Homo sapiens: one gene and its partners. The protein of the gene in region 1 purifies or fractionates together with the protein of each later gene. This does not show direct contact. Each region holds a gene or a part of one and is shown on either strand. Other genes may lie near its edges. The genes, in order: RAB30, ACOX1, F8A1, PHLDB3, BLTP3A, CUX1 and LLGL2.

Region 1 (4,298 bases):
CAGATAAAAGGTACATGGAATGTTTTTCGTTTGTTTTTTGTTTTTTTAGGTGGGATTTTTTTCTTTCTTTTCTTTTTTTTTTTTTTTTTTTTTTTAAAGATGGGGTCTTACAACGTTGCCCAGGCTGCTCTTGAATTCCTGGGCTCAAGCATTCTTCCTGTTCCTGAGTAGCTGGGACTACCAGTGTGCACCACAGTGCCTGGCTTCACTGTACTATTTTTGCAATTGCTCTAAAGGTTTGAAAGGTTTCGAATTAAGTTGGAAAAAGAATCAAATAAAACATAAACCACCTGGCACCCAGTAGATGCTATGACAGTTCACATTATGGCTCCAGTGAACAAAAGGTCTACAGAAAACTCTTCCCCCGTGCCTGAAAATAACATGAACCATATGAAAGTAAATGCCACCAGACGGTCCTGGCTTCATGAAGCTTATATTTTCAATCAGAAGGCAAGGCAAGAACAGGAAGCAGCTACAGAAACAGTATAGTTTTGGTTTCAGAAAGCCTACCTAGGGTCTATATCTGCATTTTTCAGAGTGGGAGGGGAGGGCTAGGTCATGTCGAAAAACAAAACAAGTTTACTTAACCTTACTGAAAATTGGTTCCTCATTTGTATGTAAAAAATTGAGCTAAATTCTACTGCCTAGAATTGAGATAATAAGACAGCATCCACAATACAACTTTGTAGAGCATCTTTTATTGAAGACTCTCATTAAAAGATATTAGTTTCCTACAATTAAAGTGGTGAACAAGGAAAGCACTCAGATGGTTCCACCTTTGTTTTTTTATCAGAATACCCAGCACAGGACCTTGCATTTAGCACACAAACACTGGCTGAAGAAGGAACAATTAGACAACATGAGACAGAATTCCTTTCAAAAAGTCATTCAGCCTACAAAGGCCACTGGAGTTAAAGGAAAGACTAGTATGAACTTGCTCAGTTTGAGAGTTTGAGACATGAACCCTTTGACAACAGAATATATTTATGTGCACATAAATTTGCCAAAGTCCTTTTATACACAACATCTCCTTTGAGCCCCACAATAATCCCCATTTTATAGATAAAGAAACTGAGGCTCAGCCAGGCATGGTGGCTCACACCTGTAATCCCAGCACTTTGAGAGGCTGAAGTGGGCGGATCGCCTGAGGTCAGGAGTTTGAGACCAGCCTGGCCAACAAGGCGGAACCCCATCTCTACTAAAAATACAAAAAAATTAGCCAGGCATGGTGGTGGGCACCTGTAATCCCAGCTGCTCGGTAGGCTGAGGCAAGAGAATCGCTTGAACCCAGGAGTTGGAGGTTGCAGTGAGCCAAGATTGCGCCACTGCACTCCAGCCTGGGTGACAGAGTGGGACTCCGTCTCAAAAAAAAAAAAAAAAAAGATAAGTTGTCCACGTAGCAAACAGCTCAAATTTTTTGTTTGCTTCACCCAGCCACAGTGGCTAAAGAGTGAAAATAATTCATGGCTGCGATCCTCACAATCTCTTCCCCAGGGTTCCTGTTAGGGCAAAGTGACTCACTGATGGCCACTCCTAAGCTCACACCTGCTTCTCTAAAGAAAAATGCCAAAAATCTGCCCTTTGATTGCTTCTACTGAAATTCAGAAAAATGAACACTCGGGCCTTTTAACCACCTGCTTCAGATATTTTAAAAGTGGAGCTTAAATTCTCTTTGCAATGTGGTTGCATGACTGAGATGTAGAGGAAGTGAGCAGAAGATATTTTCATTTCAAGGTTGATGACGTCCACATTTTAGTGAAGTTAACTAACCGTAACTAGAAAATAAAATTTTTCTGCAGAATTCTCTGGGGAAAACTCTTGACTGCTTTATTGTTTCAGTTCACTTTTTAAACACTGTACTGTGTTGCAGGCAGGGATAAAGTATTTCTCTCTTCCAGGGATTTCTACATTATTTACACATCAACTTTTATTACCACCATCACAAAAACCAGCAGGAACTCCGTAGTTCAATTTTTGCCCCCGTTCTGTTCACCCTTCGCAACTAGCTTCCCTTAGTAAAAGAGTTCAGCCCAAGTGGCTAATGGACTTGGCAAAGGTATGTAGAGTTAGCCCTCTCAACATTGCTGACAAGAATTTAAATCAGGGGGCAATGCTAGTGCCCTTGGACTCAGCATTTCTGCCCCCTGAAAGATATCTTACAGAAATATTCCCACAAATTCATAATAAAATGAGGTACTCAAAGGCTCACTGTAGCACAGTTCCCAACAACCATTAAAACAGGTAAGTTGGAGCAATATGCAAATACATGGGGGAAATGCCCAAAATATATTAAGTAAAAGAGAACAAGCAGAATTACATGTGCTATAATAATATTGCTAGTACACATATGGGGAAAAATGACAGAAGAATACACATCAAAATCTAACAGTTGATTATCTTTGTGGGTAGAATTAAAGAGGACTTTCCCTATACAGTCCATGTGTTTTTCTGTAATGAATTTTAATTAATCTTATGTTATTTCTTTCTTTTCTTTTTTTAAGACAAGGTCTCATGATCAGGGCTCACTGCAGCCTTGACCTCTGGGGCTTAAGGGATCCTCCTGCCTCAGCCGCACCCTTCCCCATAGCTGGGACACAGGTGTGCGCCACCACACCCAGCTAAAAAATACAAAAATATCTTCATATTTTTTGTAGAGACAGAGTTTCACCATGTTGCCCAGGCTGGTCTCAAAGTCCTGGACTCAAGCAATTCACCTGTCTCAGCCTCCCAAAGTGTTGGGATTACAAGCATAAGCCACTGCGCCCAGCCAATCTTATGTCAATTCTAGAATCAAAAAACAAATTTGAGATATATATTTAGGTACCTTTTCCCTTCGATTTGGGAACAGCTAATGTTCCTCCTGCATTGCTCCCTCTAGTAATGTCACACATAGAGTGCCAGCTGTAGAAGTTTCCAGTCACAGAATACAGGATTGTATTTAGAAAGGATATAAAACAACACTTACAATGTCCCAAAAAGTGGTATCCCAGCCCATAGGCTGATTAAATACTTGAAATGACCAGGAAAATCACTACCTCCTGAAGCAGCCCTTGATGTGTTCTAGCTTTGCTATGACATTCCTGAAGACATTCAGGAACGCCAGCTGATCATATACCAATATCTACAACGTGTCAGGTTAAACAAATGGAATCATTATCACATCCAAGAAAACTAACATTGTTACTGATTATCTAATATGTAGCTCCCATTCAAATTTCCCCGATTATCCTGAAAATGTCTTTTGTAGCTTTTTTTTTTAAGTCCAGGATCCAATCTAGGATTACATGTTCCATTTGGTTGTCATATCTCTTTAGTCTCCCTTAATATAGATTGTCGTCCCTCATACCTTCCATTTTTGTTGTCTTTCATGCGTGACATTTTTGAAGATCATAAGCCAGTTATTTTGCAGTATGTCCCACAATCTGGATTTGTCTGATTATTTATTTATGGTTAGATTTTTTTTTTCTTTTAATAGAGACAAGAGCTGGGCACAGTGGCTCACACTTTGGGAGGCTAAAATGGGAGGACCACTTGAGCCCAGGAGTTCAAGACTAGCCTGGGCAACATAGTGACAGTTTGTCTCTACAAAAAAAAAATTTAATTTAGTCAGGCATGGTGGTGCACACCTGTGGTCCCCACTGCTCAGGAGTCTGAGATGGGAGGATCCCTTGAGCCTAGGAGGTAGAGGTTGCAGTGAGCTGTGATCACACCACTGCACTCTAGCCTAGGCAACAGAGTGAGGCTCTGGAAAGAAAGAGAGAAAGGAAAGAGAGAAAAGGAAAGGAATGGAAAGGAAAGGAAAGGAGAAGACAGAGTCTCCCTATGTTGCCCAGGGTGGTCTTGAACTCCTGGGCTCAAGTAATCTTCCTGCCGTGGCCTCCCAAAGTGCTAGGATTCCAGATGTGAGCTACTATGCCCAGCCCCATGGTTAGATTTAAGTTAAGCATTTCTGGCAAAAATTCTACATCAGTGATGTTGTGTACTTCCCATTGAATCAGGTTGTGTAGTTACACTAAATTATCTTTTTCCTCATTTTGTCACTGTGGATACTAAACAAGCACCACCCAATAAATAAAATGTTTAAAAGGATAAATAATGTTAAAAACAGCTACCATGAGCACCAGCTATACCAAGCATAGTGTCAGACATTTAAAACACATGATCTCATCATGTGAACCTCCCAACAACCTTACAAAGAAACAGAGGCTCAAAGAGATTAAGTAATTTGCTCAAGGACACACGCGTATGATACAAAAATATGTGCATGTACGTATGAACTCCAGCACATAAATATGTAT
Region 2 (4,298 bases), on another chromosome or scaffold:
TTTCATAGACAAGGCCATTGGCAGGTTTGAGTGTTTGGAATTTGAACTGCCCAGCCTCATGTCTAATTATCAAAATGGCAGGAGTAAAGAAAGGGAAAGAAAAAGGGATGCAGATATCAGGGAAACATCATTTTGTGTTTGATTGCTGATTTCAGTGTGTGAATTGGTTTAAGGAAAATGTTATTTATTGTCATCTCCATGGGTACTGCAGCTTTCTGGTCATGGTTTGATGTTCCAGACACTTTACTAAACACTCAAGACTTCAACTTCAAGATGGTCAGTACTGAAATTATAAGCCTGAAAGAAAGGTTTGTAAAGGAAGATAAGATTCTTTTTTTTTTTTTTTTTTTTGAGACAGAGTTTTGCTTTTTTTGCCCAGGCTGGAGTGCAATGGCATGATCTCAGCTCACTGCAACCTCCGCCTCTGGGTTCAAGTGACTCTCCTGCCCGAGCCTCCCGAGTAGCTGGAATTACAGGTGCTCACCACCACGCCCGGCTGATTTTGTATTTTTAGTAGAGACGTGGTTTCTCCATGTTGGCCAGGCTGGTCTTTAACTCCTGACCTCAGGTGATCTGTCCACCTTGGCTTCCCAAAGTGCTGGGATTACAGGCTACAGGCGTGAGCCACCGCGCCTGGCTGACAGATCCTTCCTTTTTTTTTTTTTTTTTGGAGACAGAGTCTCACTCTGTCGCCCAGGCTGGAGTGCAGTTGTGCCATCTCGGCTCGGTGCAAGCTCCGCCTCCTGGGTTCACGCCATTCTCCTGCCTCAGCTCCTCAGTAGCTGGGACTACAGGTGCCCGCCACCACGCCCGGCTAATTTTTTGTATTTTAGTAGAGACGGGGTTTCACCGTGTAAGCCAGGATGGTCTTGATCTCCTGACCTCGTGATCTGCCCTCCCAAAGTCCTGGGATTACAAGGCATGAGCCACTGCACCCGGCCTGAGAGATAAGATTCTTTATGTAGTCCTCCTCGCTTGGAGTATCTGTGTGTTTGTGTACATGCATGCGTGGTGTGTGTGTGTGTTGTAATTTTGAAGTAGCTTTGTGGTACAGAACTCTGTTTCAGTATTCATCATTATAGAATTTATTCGACTTAACAGTCATGCTGTTCATAGGAGGCATAAGATGTGAAATAGTCTGAGGCTAATGGATTTGTTAAGTATACCTCTTACCTCTTGTTGGTCTAATGCTTCTGCCTCATTTATAAAGTAATATCACAAATATATATTTGCCCTAATTTTTTTTTTTTTTTTTGAGTCAGAGTCTCATCCTGTGCCCCAGGCTGAAGTGCAGTGGAGTGATCTCAGCTCACTGCAACCTCCACCTCCTGGGTTCAAGGGATTCTCCTGCCTCAGCCTCCTGAGTAGCTGGGATTACAGGCACCTGCCACCATGCCCGGCTAATTTTGTTATTTTTAGTAGAGATGGGGTTTGGCCATTTTGGCCAGGCTGGTCTCAAACTCCTTACCTCAGGTGATCCACCTGTCTCAGCCTCCCAAAGTGCTGGGATTACAGGTGTGAGTCACCACGCCCGGCCTGCCCTAATTTTTGAAAGGAGAGAGGAAGAAAGGAAGACTTGAACTATACTGGTTTGAGGCAAACAGAAGTTGGACAGAGATCCTATATGGCTGTGGGCAAGTTTGCATTTGTTAGAGTTTTCGTTCCCTTATTGCTTTTAGTTTTGGGTATTTTTTTTTTTTTTTTTGAGACAGAGTTTTGCTCTTGTTGCCCAGGCTGGAGTGCAATGGCGCGATCTCGGCTCCCCGCAACCTCCGCCTCCCAGGTTCAAGTGATTCTCCTGCCTCTCCCTCCCTAGTAGCTGGGATTAGAGGCGTGTGCCACCATGCCCGGCTAATTTTGTATTTTCAGTAGAGACGGGGTTTCTCCATGTTGGTCAGGCTGGTCTCGAACTCCCGACCTTAGGTGATCTGCCCGCCTCGGCCTCCCAAAGTGCTGGGATTATAGGCGTGAGCCATCATGCCCAGCTAGTTTTGGGTATTTTCTTGTATTTAAACCAACGTTGTCTTAATCTCTGTGGTTTAGAGAACAGTGTCCTAAGATTAGTCTTTTTTCTTGCTGGAATTTTGCTAATTCATATTGCTGTTCTTGGTTGATGACTGATCTTTTCCTTGGAAATAAGTCAGGTTGGTTAATTTGCATCACGTGACGGTTTTATCTTATATGGAATACACAAAAAGTCAACGTCCAGGAGATCGGCAATAGAGCAGCTTATATAGAATGAGATCTAACTATTTAAATTCTGAGACTTTGGAAAATGGATCAACAGTGAACAGTGATTATCTAACGCGGTCTCACAGAAGTAGCTGTAACTTTGGGTTTGGGATTCTTTCACTTCTGGGTAGCTGCTGAGAAGTGAAGGGGCTCAGAAGTATTCAGGTTCACTCCATGTTCCTTCCAAATCCTAAAATTCAGTCACCTACAGAAAGTCTCAGTCACCAGCATTATCCTTCTTTCTAGAGTGTGTCTTCTTTCCTCTAAGGACACGAAGAAACTCGGATATACACCTGCCCTGTGGGTCTGGGAGCCATAATCAAAGGCAGAGGCCTGAACCTGGGTGATAGGCTCACCTCCCTGGAGTTCTGGGATCAAAGGAACAGCCTGGGGAACTGGGTCCATGTTATCATCCTGACCATATGTTTCTTTAGGCCACAAAACAGGTCGTTTGTTTGCTCTTCACAGATATGTAATCATTTCAAGATGTGGCCATTTCTGGAGATTCTTCTTGCTTTGTTTTCCTTGTTTGCTTGCTTGCTCACTTCCTTCCTTCCTTCCTCTTTTTTTTTTTTTTTTTGAAGGAGTCTCATGTTGCCCAAGCTGGAGTGGTGCAATGGTACAATCTCGGCTCACTGCAACCTCCACCTCCCCCTGGTTGAAGTGATTCTCCTGCCTCAGCCTCCTGAGTAGCTGGGATCACAGGTGTGCACCACCATACCTGGCTAATATTTATATTTTTAGTAGAGACAGGGTTTCACCATGTTGGCCAGGCTGGTCTTGAACTCCTGACCTCAGGCGATCTGCCCACCTCGGCCTCCCAAAGTGCTGGGATTAGAAGTGTAAGCCACTGCACCCGGCCTCTTTCTCGCTCTCTTTCTGTCTTCTTCCCTTCCTCCATTCCTTTCGTTCCTTTCTTTCTTTATTCCTCACCCATGGACTGGGGTCACATTGCCTTGTTTCGTATTACCATCTATTTAGGAATATAGAGATTGTATGATACATAGTTATCCTTGAAGCTGATGCAGTATCCTGGCAAATTGCCATCATTAACACTTAAATATGAAATAATGCACCTTTCTTTGAAACTGGAAAGAGGTAGTAAACTTGATTTTTAAGTCATCAGTCTTTACCGCACTCCGTTGCCCTCTCTCCCTAGGCTTAACAGTCTCCTCTTCCCTCTGCCCAAGTGATTCTCTTCCCTGTTGGACTTCTCATGAGACTTGCTTCCCTGGGGATTTGGGCTAAATTTCACCAATATTAGTGATAATAATATAAACTTTATGAAAGCTGTGTTCTGGCCAGGCACGGTGGCTCACGCCTGTAATCCCAGCACTTTGGGAGGCCAGCGTGGGTGGATCACCTGAGGTCGGGAGTTCGAGACCAGCCTGACCAACATGGAGAAACCCCGTCCGTACTAAAAATACAAAATTACCTGGGTGTGATGGTGCGTGCCTGTAATCCCAGCTACTAGGGAGGCTGAGGCAGGAGAAGCTTTTGAACCTGGGAGGTGGAAGTTGTGGTGAGCTGAGATTGCGCCATTGCGCTCTAGCCTGGGTAACAACAGTGAGACTCCGTCTCAAAAAATAAATAAATAAATAAATAAATAAGACGCTGTATTCTTTGGGGTCATACTTCTGGAATACCTCTCAGAAATGAATTACTATATTGAGGGACATGAGCATTTTAGAGCTTTTGCTGCATAGTTTGAGGCTTTTCCTGAAACACAGAACCAGTTGACAATATATTGAGCAAGCTCTGTACCTGTATTTCCACAGCTCCATCAACGTGGTCACTTTAATTTATTTTGCTACTTTAACATATTTCTTTTTTTTTTTTTTTGAGACGGAGTTTTGCTCTTGTTGCTCAGGCTGGAGTGCAGTGGCGTGATCTCGGCTCACCGCAACTTCCGCCTCCCGCATTCAAGCGATTCTCCTCCCTCGGCCTCCTGAGTAGCTGGGATTACAGGCATGCGCCACCACGCCCGGCTACTTTTGTATTTTTAGTAGAGACGGGGTTTCTCCATGTTGGTCAGGCTGGTCTTGAACTCCTGACCTCAGGTGATC
Region 3 (4,146 bases), on another chromosome or scaffold:
AGGCCTGCTCCCTCGAGGCCAATGGGAAAGTGATGAGGTCACCTGACGGACGTGTGTCCCTTGTGAGGGGCCGTCACCACATGCGTGCCCGTCGCCGGATGTGCGTGCCCATTGGTCTCGGCTCCCTAGCCAATGAGGGGCTGGGCCCTGGTCGCTAGGATACACAGTACTGGACGCGGTAACTGTCCTCTTGAGAGCCATCTTGCCTAGCTGGGCCAAGCCGAGATAGCACACTCAACGCCCAGCATGCCGAGGAGGAGGAGACGCCGAGGGTCCTCCGGTGCTGGCGGCCGGGGGCGGACCTGCTCTCGCACCGTCCGAGCGGAGCTTTCGTTTTCAGTGAGCCAGGTGGAGCGCAGTCTACGGGAGGGCCACTACGCTCAGCGCCTGAGTCGCACGGCGCCGGTCTACCTCGCTGCGGTTATTGAGTACCTGACGGCCAAGGTCCCGGAGCTGGCGGGCAACGAGGCCCAGAACAGCGGAGAGCGGAACATCACTCCCCTGCTGCTGGACATGGTGGTTCACAACGACAGGCTACTGAGCACCCTTTTCAACACGACCACCATCTCTCAAGTGGCCCCTGGCGAGGACTAGCTTCTGACACCCGGCCCCTGGGACCTGACAGGTCCACTCGTCCACCCACCCGGCCCCAAATCCCCCGGCCTGAACCCCCGGCCTTAAACACCCTCCCCCCACAACCCAGGCCCCAAAGTCTTGGGCCTTCATTAATTCTGTCAATAAAATGTTTCAAGGAAGCCATCTGCCCGCTTCAGTCACTTTGCCTTGGGGTGGGGGTGGGGGGGCGGTGAGATGGGTTGGGGGGTTGTGAGACCTCCACAGCTGGAGGGATGGAGAGGTGGTGGGGGTCTGGGGTTGGGTGGGAGCCAGGGATGGCACAGAGGAGCAGTCTCTCCGGGTGACAGTGCAGGGGAGTGGCCCTGGGTGGGAAGGGGACACCCCCGCTGGTTCTGAGCAAGTCAGGGCCTGCCCGGGAAAGTCCTCAGCATGATGGTGTTCGTTGGGGCGGGTGGGCCTCAAGACCATGACTGCAGTGTTGCGACAGGACGGACTTCTAAGGCAACCGGGGTGGGGACGGAGAGGTGGACCCGGTGCTTGGCAAGGGGCCCTGGACCGGAAGACGGAGGACTGAGTAGTCGGGGCGGGGGGGGGGGGGGACAACAGTCTAGAAATGCGCAGACATGGAATTAGGGTCACGAGTTTCGTTTGGGTCATGTTCAGATGGAGAGGCTGTGGGATGCCTTTAGCAACCTAGACCACTTGCATTGCAGCCGAGCTAGCAGCAGCTGGTGCCCCGCCAGGCCCCGCGTACCTTCCCAGGGTCTTGGATCCGCATCCCCGAGACCCTCGATTTGCATACGCCGCTCACAGCCCGGCCAGGCCCCGCCTCCGATCCCGCTCTTTGCACCTCATCAGGGCAAGGGGCAGGCTCGGGCTGGGGAGCCGGCGCGGGCACGGCGGCAGCCCGCCGAGGGGGACGCAGGGCACGTCGCCCCGCCCCGGCCCGCCCGCCAGCTGCGGCGGCGCGTCGGGAAGTGCTTGGGGCGGCGAGCATGGCGGCAGCGGCTGCAGGCCTGGGCGGCGGCGGCGCCGGCCCGGGACCCGAGGCCGGGGACTTCCTGGCCCGCTACCGGCTGGTATCGAACAAGCTGAAGAAGCGGTTCCTGCGGAAGCCGAACGTGGCGGAGGCCGGCGAGCAGTTCGGACAGCTGGGCCGGGAGCTGCGCGCCCAGGAGTGTCTGCCCTACGCGGCCTGGTGCCAGCTGGCGGTGGCGCGCTGCCAGCAGGCGCTCTTCCACGGGCCCGGGGAGGCGCTGGCCCTCACCGAGGCCGCCCGCCTCTTCCTGCGGCAGGAGCGCGACGCGCGCCAGCGCCTGGTCTGCCCCGCCGCCTACGGGGAGCCGCTGCAGGCCGCCGCCAGCGCCCTGGGCGCCGCGGTGCGTCTGCACCTCGAGCTGGGCCAGCCGGCCGCCGCCGCCGCCCTCTGCCTCGAGCTGGCCGCCGCCCTGCGCGACCTGGGCCAGCCGGCCGCCGCCGCCGGTCACTTCCAGCGCGCCGCCCAGCTCCAGCTGCCCCAGCTGCCCCTGGCCGCGCTGCAGGCGCTTGGCGAGGCCGCCTCCTGCCAGCTGCTGGCGCGCGACTACACCGGCGCCCTGGCGGTCTTCACGCGCATGCAGCGCCTGGCGCGGGAGCACGGCAGCCACCCGGTGCAGTCACTGCCGCCGCCCCCGCCGCCGGCACCCCAGCCCGGGCCCGGGGCGACGCCCGCCCTACCGGCCGCGCTGCTTCCTCCGAACTCCGGCTCGGCGGCGCCCTCTCCCGCCGCCCTGGGCGCCTTCTCGGACGTGCTGGTCCGCTGCGAGGTGTCCCGCGTGCTGCTGCTGCTCCTCCTGCAACCACCGCCCGCCAAGCTGCTGCCGGAGCACGCCCAGACCCTGGAGAAGTACTCCTGGGAGGCTTTTGACAGCCACGGGCAGGAGAGCAGCGGCCAGCTTCCCGAGGAGCTCTTTCTGCTGCTCCAGTCTTTGGTCATGGCTACCCACGAAAAGGACACGGAAGCCATCAAGTCGCTGCAGGTGGAGATGTGGCCACTGTTGACTGCTGAGCAGAACCACCTCCTTCACCTCGTTCTGCAAGAAACCATCTCCCCCTCAGGACAGGGAGTCTGATCCATCCCATTCACCCAGTGACTTCTTTTTGCCCAGGCCTGGACTTTTTGCATCAGTCACGTTAACCAGATGACTTTGCCTGTTACCAAACCTCATGCATCCACGTTTGCGTCTGGGGAGGAATAAAAAGACATCGTTCCCGCTTCTGCGTTTTGTTATTCCTACTGCCGCCATAGGAATTATTTCGTTGGCTGAACGTTACCAGCACCCCGAGAACACATTTTGATAGAATCAGAGTAGAGGACATGGCTGTCTTCTAAAAAGCCACGACATGAAAATGACAATCCCTTTCGTCTCCTTCCTCCGCTGCTTCCACCTAACGCAGCCTCCTGCCTCCGCCTTTGTTTCATAGTGAGGATTTTATTTTGCACGGCGCCCTCCCTCTAAATACCTACCCTAGATGATTTCATCCTGCCCCTCACTTCTTAACATATTCCTGTGTCTTTGTAATGGCCAAATTTCTCCTTCCACTCGTCCGCACGGTACGTCTTCATGGGAGTCATTTTATTCCTTACAGCTTCCTTGTAACCACAGCCCTAAATCCATGATAAAGCTACTCTTGTACTCCTCATGTGTGGTTTTGGTGTCCGTCGTCTATAAAATGTGACTCTCTTACCTACTTGTCAGGAGGCCAGCAGCAGAACCAGATAGCTGTTTGGGCTCCAGGATGTATTCGTTCCTTTGAAATTTGCGCTATGCCTCCTATGTGGGCAACGAACCTGCAGAGATCATCTATGATGTGCTCCGTACTCGGGTGACTGCAATGCAGATACATCCAGTGCAGCGGGTCTGGTGCCGATGCATCGATTTGCATTGGAATTCACGGTTCTGGTTCCATTCGCAGAGGTATATGCAGTCTGGATCACAACAGCTTTTATTTGTAATAGGGATTTTTTTTTTTTTTTTTTTTTTTTTTCCCCCCGAGATGGAGTCTCACTCTGTCGCCCAGGCAGGAGCGCAGTGGCGTGATCTCGGCTCACTGCAACCTCCGCCTCCTGGGTTCAAGCGATTCTCCTACCTCAACCTCCAGGGTGCCTGGGATTACAGGCGTGCACCACCACGCTGGGCTAATTTTTGTATTTTTAATAGAGATGGGGTCTCACCATGTTGGCCAAGCTGGTCTCCAACTCCTGACCTCAAATGATCCACCCTCCTCGGCCTCCCAAAGTGCTGGGATTACAGGCATGAGCCACCACGCCTGGCCTGTAATAGGGATTTTGCTGCAACTTTTAGTTAAGTAGGTGAAATCAGAGTGCGTGGCCCTTTGGTGTTGTGCGATCACGTGACTGCAAGGCAGCCTCCGTGTTCCCCCAAAGCAGGATGGCGTTCCGTTTGAGAACACTTAAGTTTCCAAGGCTTTCTGGCTCAAATGGAGCATGCCCCCCAACTACGCTGTTTTCTTATTTATTGCGTCTTTTTAATCCTTTTGATGGTGACAACAAGAACTCTTCAGAATATA
Region 4 (3,870 bases), on another chromosome or scaffold:
AGGAAGCATCTGACCTGCCAGGACAATCAGGGAGGGCTTCCTGGAGAAAGAGACTTAATATAGGAACTAAAAGCTAAATGATGAGCAGGGCTTTTGTGGAATGGGGAGAGGTGCCTAAGCAAAGGGAACAGAACGTACAAAGGCCCAGAGGTGAAAGGGAAGCGAGTTTTATTTTTTGTTTTTTTCCACTTTCATGGAATGAGACATGCTCTATGGTGCTGGGAACAGCAGTGACCAGGACAATGCTGGCTCTGCCTCATGGAGCTCCCAGTGCATAAAGGACACAGATCCATCGCCCATGATGACCCAGGGTCCTCAGGGATGGGATGACAGAGCTCAAAAGGGGGTGCCTGACCCAGCCAGGAAAGTCAGTGAGGGCTTCCTGAAGGAGGTGCCAACTGAACTAAGGCTGGAAGAATGAGGTGCAGCTGATTAAGGGAAGGAGGGGGGCCAGGCGTGGTGGCTCACACCTGTAATCTCAGCACCTTGGGAGGCTAAGGTGAGTGGATCGCTTAAGTCCAGGAGTTGGAGACCAGCCTGGGCAACACAGTGAGACCCCATCTCTATAAAAATAAATAGATAAAAGAAAAAAAGGGAAGAAAAGGGCAGAGGGAACAACGTAGGCAAAGGCCTAAAGGGGGGAAGCCTAGGAGTTCCTAGAAATTTCCAGCAGCCGGTCAGGCCAGAAAGGGTGGAAACAGAAGGGCCTACAAACTAAAAAAGCAAAACTGCCAAACACTAAGGGGGACATGCCTCTCACCCTCTTCTCCCAGCTATGACCTTAAGAGTTGAAGGCCTCCATTCCTAGAGAGCCGGCTGTGGGACGCGTGGCTCCCAGAGGTACCGATAACTCAGATGTCCTGCCTAGGGGTCAAGGGGCCCCGGATGCCTGGGCTGGAAACCACAGCAGCAATTCCTGTTTTTCCTCCGTATTTAATTCGGTATCACAGGAGCACCAATAAATAGTTTCTTCCCGCCCCTGCAATCTTCCTCCTGCCCCGGGCAGGGCCTTAGGGGCCGGCGATCCCGTCGGGGGCAAGGCACCTGCAACCCAGAACGCAGCAGCTCAGGCCAGCTGAACTGCCGCGCCTGCGGAATTCCCGGGAGAGTTCCAAAGCGGTGCGTCCAAGTTTTCCGGCAGTGGGCGGGGCCTAGGAACGCCCCCGCGCCCCGCGCCGGCGGAGCCTCGAAGGGACTTCCCCCCAAGAGGGCGGGGCCACTCAGGGGGCGTGGTTTTCGTCAGCGGCGGTCACGATGACGTCCATCCAAATGCGCATGGCTTCGGGGCTCGGAGCCACCATGTAGAAAAGGCGTTCGTAGGTTTTGACGCAGAAGGTCAGGCGGGGGTTGGGGCTCTGGAATAAGCAGAAAGTGAGGGTAATTCAGACAAAAGACACCGGCCACAGTCTGGGTGCGAACCCAGCCTTGCTACTTATAGTCTGTGTGGCACTGGACAAGGTACTTAAGTATCTGAATGTCAGTTTCCCTGTCTTCCCAAATGATGCCACCTACCTCACTGGGTTATAAGGATTAAATGAATTAACACAAGGAAGTGCTTAAAATTATCATATGTAGAGCGCTATTGATAAATTAGGGGCAAGATAAATTTTTTTTCTTTTTTTTTTGAAACTGAGTCTGGCTCTGTCGCCAGGCTGGAGTGCAGTGGCGCAATCTTGGCTCACTGCAACCTCCACCTCTCGAGTTCAAGCGATTCTCCTGCCTCAGCCTCCCGAGTAGCTGGGACTACAGGCGTGTGCCACCACGCCCAGCTAATTTTTGTATTTTTAGTACAGACCAGGGTTTCACAGTGTTTGTCAGGATGGTCTCGATCTCTTGACCTCGTGATCCGCCTGCTTCGGCCTCCCAGAGTGCTGGGCTTACAGGCGTGAGCCACTGTGCCAGGCCGAGAAATTTAAAAGTAGGACTTATGACGCCTTCTCTCAGCCTAACTTCTCCTATATTAGAAATACAGGCATTCAAATTCCACCTCCCCAAAATCTAGGTCCCCTTGTACCTGGGAAAAGTTAGTGTCTAGAATCCGTTATTTGAGTACCCACTTGCCAATCCCAAATTGAGTAAATCCCTTATGTCCATAATCTGTTTTTAGCCCTCTCAATAACCCTGATGGAATGGGTTGATGCGTACCCATTCTACACGTGAGAAAACTCAGGCCGGCCGGGCTGGGTGGCTCACGCCTGCAATCCCAGCACTTTGGGAGGTTGAAGCGGATTGATTGCTTGAACTCAGGAGTTCAAGACCAGCCTGGGCAACAGAGGGAGACCCCATCTCTACAAAAAAATACCAGAAAAACAAAACAAAACAAATTAGCTGGGTGTGGTGGCACACACATATAGTCCTAGCTACTCAGGAGGCTGAGGCAGGAGGATTGCTTGAGCCCGAGAGATAGAGGCTGCAGTGAGCTATGATTGTACCACTGCACTCCAGCCTGGTCTATGGAGCAAGAAAAAAAAAAAGAAAAAGAAACAAAGAAAACTAAGGCTAAAGGCTAAAGAAAGGAAGTCACTTTCCTGATGTCACATAGCTGAGATTCCAACCTAATTGCTAAAAAGCCACAGTTTGGTTATTCTCCACAGAGCTTTCTAAATATTGTATCAGTTGCCAACATTTAAATTTTTGGCACTGTGCTTTATACAAGTTCCAATTCCTGAGTTCTCTGGGAAAAAATAAATATAAGACAACACCATGGGACCCACTCCCACTTGGCAACTGTTGGCAGGAGCCAACTAACAACCATCTCCTTTATTTATTTTTCATTTAAAAAATAAAAAAAAAAAAACAGAGATGGGATCTTGCTATGTTGACCATGCTGGTCTCAAACTCCTGGCCTCCTGCAGTCCTCCCATCTTGGTCTCCCAAAATGTTGGGATTATAGGCATGAGCCACGACGCCTGGCAGATCATCTCCTTTAGATGCTCCCAGGCTGCCCGACCCTTGCTGTGACCTCTCCATTCATTTATTCCCAGTTGGACATCAGAGTCTGCCATATTTTGGCTCTAAAACTTTTGCTCCAAGAAAATTAACAGTGACAGGCCAGGTGCGGTGGCTCACGCCTGTAATCCGAGCACTTTGGGGGGCCAAGGTGGGCAGATCATGAGGTCAGGAGTTCGAGACCAGCCTGGCCAACACAGTGACACCCCATCTCAACTAAAAATACAAAAGTTAGCCAGCTGTGGTGGCACGCCTGTAATCCCAACTACTTGGGAGGCTGAGGCAGGAGAATCGCTTGAACCCGGGAGGCAGAGGTTGCAGTGAGCCAAGATGGCGCCACCGCACTCCAGCCTGGGCAACAGAGCCAGACTCCATCTAAAAAAAAAAAAAGAGCCACGTGTGGTGCGGTGGTTCACGCCTGTAATCCCAGAACTTTGAGAGGCTGAGGTGGGCAGATCATGAGGTCAGGAGTTTGAGACCAACCTGGCCAACACAGTGAAACCCCGTCTCTACTAAAAATACAAAAATTAGCCGGGCACGGTGCCTGTAATCCCAGCTACTCAGGAGGCTGAGGCAGGAGAATTGCTTGAACCAGGGAGGCGGAGGTTGCAGTGAGCCGAGATGGCGCCACTGTACTCAGGCCTGGGCGACAGAATGAGACTCTGTCTTAAAAAAAAAAAAAAAGAAGAAAATTAACAGTGGCTGAAGGCCAGAGTCTGGGCTCTTAATTTTTAGTCCCTGCAGTCAGGTGACCTGTTTGTTTTCTCTGCGACAAACACGTACTCCTATGAGTACCCTGACAGGAGAAGCTGCGGGTGGCTTTCCCCAGGATGAGCCAGGGATGAGATAAGGCCTGACTCCAACTGAGTCTCCAACTGGGAGGTCAGGGTGACATTGAGGGGCTTCACCTTGAAGGCACAG
Region 5 (3,500 bases), on another chromosome or scaffold:
GTGTGGTGGCAGGCACCTGTAATCCCAGCTACTTGGGAGGCTGAGGCAGGAGAATTGCTTGAACCGGGGAGGCGGAGGTTGCAGTGAGCCGAGATCGCGCCCTTGTACTACAGCCTGGGTGACAGAGCAAGACTCTGTTTAAAAAAAAAAAAAAAAAAATTAGCTCGGTGTGGCGGTGCGTGCCTATAGTTCTAGCTGCTTGGGAGGCTGAGGTGAGTGGATCATGTGAGTCTAGGAGTTTGAGACTACAGTGAGCTATAATTGCACCACTGCACTCCAGCCTGGGCAATAGAGCAAGACCCTGTCTCTTAAAAAACATTAAAATATTGAGTAGATACTGAAGAACACTTATAAAATATATGTAAGGCATAAAATAATAACAATACAATGAACCCATTTACTCACCACCTAGTTTGTTTTATTGTTTTTTAATTTTTTTTTGAGACACAGTCTTGCTCTGTTGCCCAGGCTGGAGTGCAGTGGCACGAATTCGACGTGCTGCAACCTTCACCTCCTTCAAGCAATTCTCCTGGCTCATCCTCCTGAGTAGCTGGGAATACAGGCACACACCACCACGCCCAGCTTATTTTTGTATTTTTAGTAGAGATGGGGTTTCACCATGTTGACCAGGCTGGTCTCAAACTCCTGGCCTCAAGCGATCTGTCCATGTCAGCCTCCCAAAGTGCTGGAATTACAGGCCTGAGCCACCATGCCTGGCCCCACCACCTAGTTTAATTAATACAACAGTACCATTACCTTTTAAGTCTCTGGGAGTCCCTCTCCTGAACCTCCTTCTGTCCCTCACCTGTCATAGGTAATCACTATCCTGAATTTGTATTCATTGTTATCTTGCTTTACTTTATAATTTGTACACGTGTTTATATTAATGTATTTTTAGCTTTTTTCACATTTTTCTAAATGGAATAATAGATTGTACTATTTTTGTGATTTGCTTCTTTCAAGTAACATGATATTCTTTAAATTCATCTAGGTTGTTGAATTAGCTATAATTTGTTCATTTTTCATTACTATATAATGTTATTGTATACATACACCACTTTTTTTTTTTTTTTTTTTTTTTTTTTTGAGGCAGAGTCTTGCTGGGTTGCCCAGGCCGGAGTGCAGTGGTTGCAATCTCAGCCCACTGCAACCTCCGCCTCCCGGGTTCAAGTGATTCTCATGCCTCAGCCTCCTCAGTAGCCAGGACTACAGGTGCCTGCCACCACGCCTGACTAATTTTTTTGTATTTTTAGACAGGGTTTCACCATGTTGCTCAGGATGGTCTTGAACTCCTGAACTCAAGTGATCCACCCGCCTCAGCCTCCCAAAGTCTTAGGATTACAGGCATGAGCCACTGTGCACGGCACTTTTTGCTTTTTGAAAACAGCTTTATTGAAGTATAATTTGCATAACATAAAATTCACTCATTTTAAGTGTACAATTTTATAATTGTGTAACCATCACCACAACCCAATTTTAGAACATTTCCATGACCCCCAAAATATCCCTGTACCCATTATACTATTTACTTCTTTATTCTATTCTGGACAGCCATTTGGGTTATTTCTAGTTTTTGTTTGTTTGTTTGTTTTTCCAGTTTCAAATAGGGTTGCTGTGAACATCCTTGTACATGTCTCTTGGAATATATGTTTGAGAGTTTCCCTGGGGTTGTATTTCTGACAATATAATTTCTAGATCATTAGGGTAGGCACAACTTCACCTTTACTAGATAATACCAAATTGTTATGCAAAATGTTTGTACCAATTTGCAGTTCCATAAATGTGTAAGTTGTTCCACAGGATCCTTGGCTACACCTGAGAGTGTTCTGTTTGGAGTTTTGGAGAGATTAGCATAGATCCTGCTTTGCTTTATGAGTGACAGATGAGAAAACCAAGACTTAGAGAAAGGAGGAGACATTCAAATTTAGTAGAGTTTGGGAGTCCTGTGTTTTAAGAGCTTTTCCTTGGCCATTAGCCCACTGTCTCACATTCATAACAAGGCCAATCCTTAATCTCTCTTCCACCTTGCAAGGCATTATAGCAAAGTATCTAAGCCCATGGACTTGGCAATCAGACTGCCTGGGTTCAGATCCTCTCCTTGCTACTTACTAATTATGTAATTTTGGGCAAGTTATTCTCTGTGACTTCGTTCAGTCAGATGAGAATGATGATATTCCTTTGACATAGGGTTATTATGAATATTGGTATATAAGGTGCCTAGAAGACTCCCTGGCCGTTAATTAGTTGTCTTCCTTGTCTTTCTTCACAAAGGTACATGCTTTCAGGAATCCTCAACTTTGAAGACTGGCCACATCAGGCCAGCTGTGGGCCTTCGCTTTGAGGTGGGGCCTGGAGCAGCTGTTCATTCCCCCCTGGCCTCACAAAATGGCTTCCTACATTTATTGCTTCATGGCTGTGACCTCGAGCTGCTCACTTCAGTGCTCAGTGGCCTGGGGCCCTTCTTGGAGGATGAGGAGATCCCGGTGGTAGTCCCCATGCAGATTGAGCTTCTGAACTCCAGCATCACCCTAAAGGTGTGAGGAACCTTTGGTTTTTGCCAATGTAAGGGCACATTGGTTTTTGCCCTGGACTTTGTCAAGCAAGGAAGCAGTGACACCTGTTAACCTCTTCCCTTTTCACTGTAAAATATGGTGAGGATCAAGTGAGGAAATATTAATACATATTTGCATTCTCTGTCAGTGTTATAGTGGTATATAAATGTGTGTTGCTGTCAGAAAAGCCAGGGTTCAGGTGAGGAGACCTTGTCTGTAACCCTAACCCTGTCTTTGGCATGCAGCATTACCATGTGCAAGCCATCAGGTTATCTGATTCTCAGTTTCACCATCTCTAGATGGGAGAATCTGCCATGCCTCTTATACCTTCCAAGAATGTATGGACAAACTGGCATAAAGCTGCTTCAAGCTGAATGATGGGAGCATGGGTTGTGTTAAATTGCTCTGAGCTGGTGGGGGGCATCATGTGGTTTCTCTCTTTCCTGCAGGATGATATCCCCCCCATCTATCCAACATCTCCAGGCCCCATCCCCATCACTCTGGCCATGGAACATGTTGTGCTGAAGAGGAGTGATGATGGTGTGTTCCACATAGGCGGTGAGTCAGGCTTGTCAGCCTGTTGGTTTCTCTGCCTTTTCTCCTAAAAGTGAATAGGTGACACCTAGGAACTGTTTGGGAGTTGGCAGCAGTTTGTCACTTAGAACCTTTACTTGTTTTCTCCAGCTGCTGCTCAGGACAAACCATCAGCTGAAGTACTTAAAAGTGAGAAGAGACAGCCCCCAAAAGAACAGGTGTTTTTGGTGCCCACAGGAGAGGTTTTTGAACAGCAGGTGAGGACCTAACAGAACAGTAGCTGCCCATAACCCTTGGGGGCTATACTTGTGAAACTGGTAAAACCCGGGGTTGGGGGGCAAAAAGGTTGCGTGTGCTGCCTGCATGTGGGTGTTTTGGGTTCCTGTCACCTAGCAGCGGCTTCTAGAAGTGCTG
Region 6 (4,298 bases), on another chromosome or scaffold:
CTACAAAAAAATCAAAAGGTTAGCTGGGCGTGGTGGCGTGTACCTGTGGTCCCAGCTACTTGAGAGGCTAAGGCAGGAGGATGGCTTGAGCCCAGGAGGTGGAGGCTGCAGTGAGCCATGATTGAGCCACTGCACTCCAGTCTGGGCAACAGAGTGAGAACCTGCCTCAAATAAAAAAACAAAAAAGAAAGTTCCTTTTCTGTTTAAGACCAGGGGATCAATGTGCCACATCAACAGAGCTATTGAGAGGTCATTTCATCAGACATGTTTGAAACACCCTGAAATTTAGACTCAAACAGAGCAGGGAGATGTTTTGAACAGCATCAATTTGCACCAAGAAAATGCAGTGTTTTATGAGGATGTTAACCGAAATTGAATGTCTTTGGATGATTAATGCGAGCTTTGTTCTGGGGGCTGGCGGGTGATCCTCCTTCAAGGCAGTCCTCCCTCCCATGGACCTCCCTGGCCTCAATGCCGTAGGTCGCTACTTAGATTTCCCCCATCTCCTTTTGCAGCAGAGCCACGGCCTCTGCGGGCCGGTCAGCCAGGGAAGGGCCTCTCAGAAGATTCTAGAAACTCCCGAGTTGCACAGGCAGCCCTGAGCCCTTTCTTTAGTGACAGGCGGCTCAGATTTCATGTCACACAGCCCATATCGTCAACACCACCATTCCCCTGATTGTTTTGTTCTTACCACACTTGTTTTTCAACAGAGAATCCAGGCCAGAGCCTGAACAGACTATTTCAGGAAGTACCGAAACGAAGAAATGGGTCTGAAGGTATGTTGCAGGCAGGCGTTTTCTTTGCAGTCAGTCACCTAGGGAAGCAGCATGTCCTTAGCTGTGTATTTGGGTTAAAACTGTGCAGTGTGATTCTGGCCTGGAACCTGATGGAAAAACAGCTAGTAAGTATAAAACAAGGCACGGGTTCAAGCACACCCAGCCCCTTCCTCCCGAGCTGCCTGCCCTCTCCCAAGCACAGGCGGGGGTGAGAAGAGGCATTGCTAAGCTAAGCCCCCCGAGTCTGAATCCCAGCCCACTTCAGATCCTAATTACCCGGTCCCCCGTTTTTCTCAGACGCAGTTGAAAAAATAACAGCGGTTGCTCTGAGAAAAGTCAGGTGACCCGTCAAATTAAATACTGCTGCTTCCTCGTATTTTTAACTCGGAAACACACTCAAGGTCCTATGGAACGGACGCATCCCACATCGTCCCGGTGGCATACTTGTTTTTAAATGGTGGTATACTTGTTTTGAATGCAGTGGTTCCTATTTAGGAAGGTAGTAAGAAATTAAACTATCCGGGTGGCTTCCCGAAAGAGCTGGGGCCAGCCCCTGGGCCATAGTAGCCTCATTTCGTCGGCACGTGTGCCTGCACAAAACATCACCATGTGGCCGAAAGAATCCATCCTCCCCACTTAGGAATTTCTGCAGGCTCCTTTCCTCGTATGTAAATTTTAAAAAGATATTATGTGATAATAGGTGCAAACAATTTTTTAAGTTAAGCCTTTCTTCACCCTGTGCCTCTGAATGATTGATAGACAATCAGCCTCAAACCCTCTGCCCTCCTTTTCCGTTTATCCTGTGTGGGACCCCAGCATCCAATAAACATCTAACCCCGAGGAGAGTCAGTCCCAAGCCACAGCAGTTGCTTCTAAGTGACTCATGAGAAACATTGCCTTTTAATCACTCGCCTTTTATATATATGGATTAAATGATCGGTTCTCCCGGGTACTAACCCACGGGTGGTGTCCGGCTTTGGCAGAGTAACATTGACCGTAAGGTCAAATGAGCAGGAAATCCCTCCTGCCCGGTGTCGCTGTGAAGTTGCACTCACAGCAAACACAGGCCACTGGGAGGCCACATCTGCCTCCTTGTGTCACCAGCCCCCACCCGGGGCTATATATCAGAATGACGTCTTCGCGCAGCGCTGATTTTTGTCCGGGGTTTGGGTTTGATGTCATTGGCGCAACTTCTCCCCACAGGTAACATCACCACCCGGATCCGAGCCTCGGAGACTGGCTCTGATGAAGCCATCAAGTCCATCCTAGAGCAAGCCAAGAGGGAGCTCCAAGTGCAGAAAACTGGTACAGCTTCCATTTCTTCATCCACTGTCTTCAAACTTAATTAAGAGAATTGTCATGAGTGCTCTGGTCAGCAGTAATTAACTATTTTTTTTTTAAACAATAATGAATGCCTGTTCTCAAGCATTTAGGCACGTAGAGAGAAGCAGGTCTGTGTGATCTGTATTTGCCTAATAGTTACCTTTTTTTTTGAGATGCAGTCTCTCTCTGTTGCCTGTGCTGGAGTGCAGTGGCACGATCTCAGCTCACTGCAACCTCTGCCTCCCGGGTTTAAGCGATTCTCCTGCCTCAGTCTCCCGAGTAGCTGGGACTATAGACATGTGCCACCATGCCCATGATATTTGTGTTTTTAGTAGAGACGGGGTTTTACCATGTCGGCCAGGCTGGTCTCGAACTCCTGACCTCCAGTGATCCTCCCACCTCGGCCTCCCACGGTGCTGGGATTACAGGTGTGAGCCACCGCGCCTGGCCCCTAGTTGTAATTATTCACAGAAATTACGCTCCTTAACTTTGACAGAACCACTTGCATTTCAGAATATAGCACAGGAAAATGAATACCAAGTATAAAAATTATCAGAGGTCAGGCGCGGTGGCTCACACCTGCAATCCTGGCATTTTGGGAAGCTGATGGGGGAGGATGACTTGAGTTCAGGAGTTTAAGACCAGCCTATGCAACACAGTGAGAGACCTTGTCTCTTAAAACACTAGCCAGGCATGGTGGCATGCACCTGTGGTCCCAGCTACTTGGGAGGCTGAGCTGGGAGGATTGCTTGAGCCAGGGAGGTGGAGGGTGGGTACAGTGAGCCGTGATCGTGCCACTGCGCTCCAGCCTGGACAACAGCGAGATCCTGTCGCTAAAAAAAAAAAAAAAAAAAAAAAAAAAAATTCTCGGGGAAAGGAGCCCCAGGAGGGCAGGTCGGGGAGCACTTTCACTGACACCCCCTTTATTACCCTCTACATCTGTGTGTATACCAAAGGCCACCAGGTCATCAAGCTGTAGTGTCAGGCCCTGGTCCTTGGTTGAGACAAGATGCCTGAATGTTTCACTGACAGGGGCCATGCTGGGGAAATACACAGTGTGGTTCTCCCAAATAACCCACACTTTGCAGTAGGTCAAGTTAGGATGAGAAGCATGTCCCCAGCTGAAGGGGGCCGCCCTGCCACACTCTCACCCCTGTTTCTCCATGCAGCAGAGCCGGCCCAGCCTTCCTCCGCATCCGGCAGCGGGAACTCTGATGACGCCATCCGCTCCATCCTGCAGCAAGCCCGCCGGGAGATGGAGGCCCAGCAGGCTGCCCTCGACCCTGCCTTAAAGCAGGCACCACTGTCCCAGAGTGACATCACCATCCTCACCCCCAAGCTTCTGTCCACCTCGCCCATGCCCACCGTGTCCAGCTACCCACCTCTCGCCATCTCCCTGAAGAAGCCCTCCGCAGCTCCTGAGGCCGGTGCCTCTGCTCTGCCGAACCCCCCGGCCCTCAAAAAGGAGGCCCAGGACGCCCCCGGGCTGGACCCCCAGGGAGCAGCCGATTGTGCACAAGGGGTCCTGAGACAGGTGAAAAATGAGGTGGGCCGCAGCGGTGCCTGGAAGGACCACTGGTGGAGCGCGGTGCAGCCGGAGAGAAGAAATGCCGCCTCCTCCGAGGAGGCCAAGGCCGAAGAAACGGGCGGCGGGAAAGAGAAGGGCAGCGGTGGCAGCGGAGGTGGCAGCCAGCCTCGGGCCGAGCGCAGTCAGCTCCAGGGACCCTCGTCGTCAGAGTACTGGAAGGAGTGGCCCAGCGCTGAGTCCCCATACTCCCAGAGCTCAGAGCTGAGTCTGACCGGGGCCAGCCGCAGCGAGACACCACAGAACAGCCCCCTGCCATCCTCCCCGATCGTGCCCATGTCCAAGCCCACCAAGCCCTCGGTCCCCCCGCTGACCCCCGAGCAGTACGAGGTCTACATGTACCAGGAGGTGGACACCATCGAGCTCACCCGGCAGGTTAAGGAAAAGCTGGCCAAGAACGGCATCTGCCAGAGAATCTTCGGGGAGAAGGTAAGGGATCTGCTCTGGGGGCTTTGGTTCTCCCATCTCTTCTCCTTGCTGAGGACCAAGTATCTATCCCGCAGCCTGTGACCCTCACCCATTTCAATTCACCCAAGAGCAGAGCGTAAGGCATCCTCTGCTCCCAGACTTCCAAGGTGCGGCTGGTGAACATTGCAGCCCCGATCCCATTTGCC
Region 7 (3,305 bases), on another chromosome or scaffold:
TTGTCTCAGACACCGGAGAACCCCACGCACTGGCCATACAGTAGGTGCTCAACGAAGACGAGTCAATAAAGATCCAGCCCATGTCCAATCTAAATAACCCAGCCCCTCCCCTGGGGAAGGCCTTTCTCCTTGGGTACCAGCCCCGCTTCAGCAGCACCCCACAGTCCTCCCTGGTGTCTGGAGGAAGCCATCAGGTCTGAGATATTGTGGGTGTCCTTCTTCTGACAGTAGGGAAAGGCCAGCCAGGGGCGGCCAGGACCCAGGGAAAAAGTCAGGCAGACTCAAGATGGTTCGTGCTTGCCATGTGTTCCCACAGAGGGAAGGCACCGCCGGGCTCAGACAAAACGAAGCAGTTTGATTCACACGGCTCCCCAAGTGGATTCTCCTGACACCGGCCCAGGCCAGGGCTGGAGCCTCGGGGGACAGGCAGGGTACCGGCTCCCACTTTCCATTCACATGGAAAATTTCTACACAATTAAAATATTAAAGTAGTGGACCAGTCAAGAGGTAATAGGTGTTTATTAAAAACTTTTTCACCCAGAGGCAGTTAACATTTATAACTTAAAACCCAGCCCACTACAAAAAGGGATGGGAGCAATAAAAACTGTGCAACATTGACCAAAGGACCCAGACAGACGAGGCCCGGGAAGGGCAGCCCAGGGGACTGGGGTCTCTCCTCTCCCGAGGCCCAGAGCAGCTGCATTGTGGAAGCCGGGATGCCCCCAGCCCCTGGCGGGGCCCTGTGCACCGGCCTCTCCGGTTGGGGCAGGGACCCCCGAAAGGCCATCAGTAGTAGTGTGTGCTCATCGCGCAGCCTGGACGCTCAGCCACTCACTCTGCTGAAGGACACAGAGGGACAGCTCAAGATCACCCTGGGCAGGACGGGGTGCCCCAGCCGCCCACGCTGAGCCCAGACATGGTGCTTTCCTGGTCATCAGGGCACGTGTCAGCCCCGTGGGACCCAGGGGAGTGGGGCCGGGGCTCTTCCTCCCAGCCCTTCCCAGCACGGTTGGCAGCTGCACTCAAGCCCAGAGCCCCCACCTCCGCCATTGCTGAGGCTGCACCCCACGGCGGCTCGATGTGAACGCCAGTTGCCGCTCCTGCACAGGCAAAGACAGGGGAGTCATGGCCTCAGGGACCTCCACTCTCAGCGCTCCCCTGAGCCCTCTGGCAGAGCCTCGGGCCCACCCCAGCTGGCCTGGGCGGTGCCTCACCCGCGGTCTCCCTCCAGTGTGCTCTGGATTTCCTTCAGGACTCCTGCAGGCCGGGTGGGAACAGAGGCCCACTGAGGCCCTTGGGGCGGCTAGCCACAGCCCTTCCACCCCCTTTCTCCGTGGGTGCCCATGGATCTGTACCCCGCCTCAGGGCAGTGGCCTGCCCAGCCTCCCTTGACCCTGACCCCCCTTCCCCACCCCTCCTGCCAGCCCCACCCTCTCCCACCCAACTCACTCTCATCACTGAGCAGAGCGCGCTCCATCACCAGGCCGGGCTGCTTCTCTGGAAGGTAGAGGCCGGGTCAGGGCGCCCCGCCTGGGCCCTCCTCGGCCTGGCTCTCTCTCTCCTTACTGAGGTCAGGATGTGGAAGCCCAGGGCCCAGGGCTGGAAGGAATGCCGTCTCTATTCCCAGCCCAAACACTACCTGCTCACTCGGGACCCTTCCCTCCCGTCCAGCCCCAGGTCTGGGCCGGGTGTGGCCCAGGTGTGCATGAGCCCAGGAGGCCTGTCTTACCCTCGCCATCACTCTGAGTCCCTGAGTTCCTGTGGGGGAAGAGACAGTGAGGACCAGGGCCCCCGGGCTCCCTGCCCGGCTCTGAGAGCCCTGGTCCCATGAAGAACAAGTCAATGGCGCAGCCTGTCCTGAGCCGGAGAGCCTGGGAGGTAAACTGAGTCCTGCCCTGGACTGCCAGCTTGCACAGGGGCAAGGGGCACGCAAAGAGGCAAGGAGAGCCGGAGCCTGGGAGGGTGGGCTGAGCTCGTGGGGAGGTGCCTCCAGCCAGGCAGCAGTGGGAGCCTCGGTATCTCAGAGAGGGCAGGGAGGGGCGGGAGGGGCGGGAGAGGCCTCTGGCCCTTTCACTCACCTGGCTCGGCTCGGGGCCTTCTTGGGGCCCGCACCGTTACCAGGGCGGTGGTTCTTGGTTTCTGCTGAATCCACCAGACACCGGGGCTCCACCAGCCACTTGGTGGAGAGAGAGAAGCGCTCAAACTCCGAGGGTGAGATCAGGTAGAAGCCTGGGGAGTGGGGGCAATGCTAGCGGCCTGGCCTGGCGGCTGCCAAGGCTGCCTCCCCACCTGGGGGAGTAGGGGCTAGTGCTCCCTCGCAGTTCTCCGCTTAAGGCCCATCCAGTCTGGCCGTGGCCACAACACCCCTGGCCACCCTTCCCGTCCGTGCAGTGCCCGGGGCCCCGACACCCACCCAGCCCGGCTCAAACACCTTGGCCATATTTGGTGAAGACGCAGGAGGCGATGCCACTGACGTCCTCCCGGCGGATGCAGCTGTAGCGCACCTGGGGCTTGAGCAGGGGCAGCGAGACCACCTGGATGTCGCCCAGGTTGGTAAGGACTGCCAGGTGGTGCTCCCCGTAGTCCTCGGCTCGACGACTGCCGAAGTGGGCCACGCTGACCCGCCGCACTCTTGAGCCCTCCAGGGCCGTCAGCTTCAACTTCAGCTTGGCACTCACCTTGGGCAGCGTGAACACCTGGGGGCGTGGGGTGGTTGTTCATGCCCATGGCCAAACCAGTTCTCCTGCCCTGTGCTGCTGCTGCTGGGCCCTCCCCTCCCCACATGCCTCCCGGTGTCCTGACAAACCCTTGGCTCTCAGATGCACAGACATGGCCTGGGAGGATGCCGAGGTCACCGACTTCCCTATCTGGATTTTTTTTTTTTTCCTCCGAGATGGAGTCTTGCTCTGTCGCCCAGGCTGGAGTACAGTGGTGTGATCTCGGCTCACTGCAACCTCCGCCTCAGGCAATTCTTCTGCCTCAGCCTCCCGAGTAGAGCTGGGATTACAGGCGTCCACCACCATGCTGGTTTTTTTTTTTTTTTTTGAGACGGAATCTCGCTCTGTCGCCCAGGCTGGAGGGCAGTGGCACAATCTCGGCTCACTGCAAGCTCCGCCTCCTGGGTTCACGCCATTCTCCTGCCTCAGCCTCCTGAGTAGCTGGGACTACAGGTGCCCGCCACCACGCCTAACTAATTTTTTTGCATTTGTTTGTAGAGACGGGGTTTCACCGTGTTAGCCAGGATGGTCTCGATCTCCTGACCTTGTGATCTGCCCGCCTCGGCCTCCCAAAGTGCTGGGATTACA

Evidence for each region.
Region 2: the proteins of RAB30 (region 1) and ACOX1 purify together in Homo sapiens (affinity purification with mass spectrometry; 2 studies listed by BioGRID and IntAct, with this or other methods). This does not show direct contact.
Region 3: the proteins of RAB30 (region 1) and F8A1 purify together in Homo sapiens (affinity purification with mass spectrometry, with the first as the bait; 2 studies listed by BioGRID). This does not show direct contact.
Region 4: the proteins of RAB30 (region 1) and PHLDB3 purify together in Homo sapiens (affinity purification with mass spectrometry; 2 studies listed by BioGRID and IntAct, with this or other methods). This does not show direct contact.
Region 5: the proteins of RAB30 (region 1) and BLTP3A purify together in Homo sapiens (affinity purification with mass spectrometry; 2 studies listed by BioGRID and IntAct, with this or other methods). This does not show direct contact.
Region 6: the proteins of RAB30 (region 1) and CUX1 purify together in Homo sapiens (affinity purification with mass spectrometry; 2 studies listed by BioGRID and IntAct, with this or other methods). This does not show direct contact.
Region 7: the proteins of RAB30 (region 1) and LLGL2 purify together in Homo sapiens (affinity purification with mass spectrometry; 2 studies listed by BioGRID and IntAct, with this or other methods). This does not show direct contact.

The regions. Positions count from the first base shown.
Region 1 is NC_000011.10:83,061,639-83,065,936, forward strand, and holds part of RAB30 (ras-related protein Rab-30), read right to left. Parts: intron 1-4,298. UniProt on the Homo sapiens protein: The small GTPases Rab are key regulators of intracellular membrane trafficking, from the formation of transport vesicles to their fusion with membranes.
Region 2 is NC_000017.11:75,968,699-75,972,996, reverse strand, and holds part of ACOX1 (peroxisomal acyl-coenzyme A oxidase 1), read left to right. Parts: intron 1-4,298. UniProt on the Homo sapiens protein: Involved in the initial and rate-limiting step of peroxisomal beta-oxidation of straight-chain saturated and unsaturated very-long-chain fatty acids.
Region 3 is NC_000023.11:154,884,804-154,888,949, forward strand, and holds F8A1 (40-kDa huntingtin-associated protein), read left to right. Parts: upstream 1-1,551; 5' UTR 1,552-1,571; coding exon 1,572-2,687; 3' UTR 2,688-3,258; downstream 3,259-4,146. Other genes in the region: H2AB1 (histone H2A-Bbd type 1), read left to right, coding at 247-594.
Region 4 is NC_000019.10:43,474,190-43,478,059, forward strand, and holds the end of PHLDB3 (pleckstrin homology-like domain family B member 3), read right to left. Parts: coding exon 3,858-3,870; intron 1,356-3,857; coding exon 1,221-1,355; 3' UTR 914-1,220; downstream 1-913.
Region 5 is NC_000006.12:34,868,583-34,872,082, forward strand, and holds part of BLTP3A (bridge-like lipid transfer protein family member 3A), read left to right. Parts: intron 1-2,271; coding exon 2,272-2,534; intron 2,535-3,001; coding exon 3,002-3,110; intron 3,111-3,236; coding exon 3,237-3,343; intron 3,344-3,500. UniProt on the Homo sapiens protein: Tube-forming lipid transport protein which probably mediates the transfer of lipids between membranes at organelle contact sites. May be involved in the retrograde traffic of vesicle clusters in the endocytic pathway to the Golgi complex.
Region 6 is NC_000007.14:102,198,092-102,202,389, forward strand, and holds part of CUX1 (Homeobox protein cut-like 1), read left to right. Parts: intron 1-710; coding exon 711-776; intron 777-1,979; coding exon 1,980-2,081; intron 2,082-3,268; coding exon 3,269-4,113; intron 4,114-4,298. UniProt on the Homo sapiens protein: May be involved in intra-Golgi retrograde transport.
Region 7 is NC_000017.11:75,572,405-75,575,709, reverse strand, and holds the end of LLGL2 (LLGL scribble cell polarity complex component 2), read right to left. Parts: intron 2,697-3,305; coding exon 2,432-2,696; intron 2,230-2,431; coding exon 2,079-2,229; intron 1,759-2,078; coding exon 1,730-1,758; intron 1,600-1,729; coding exon of another isoform or gene 1,517-1,599; exon of another isoform or gene 1,504-1,516; intron 1,498-1,503; coding exon 1,450-1,497; intron 1,258-1,449; coding exon 1,215-1,257; intron 1,101-1,214; coding exon 1,042-1,100; intron 840-1,041; coding exon 832-839; coding exon of another isoform or gene 804-831; 3' UTR 501-803; downstream 1-500. UniProt on the Homo sapiens protein: Part of a complex with GPSM2/LGN, PRKCI/aPKC and PARD6B/Par-6, which may ensure the correct organization and orientation of bipolar spindles for normal cell division.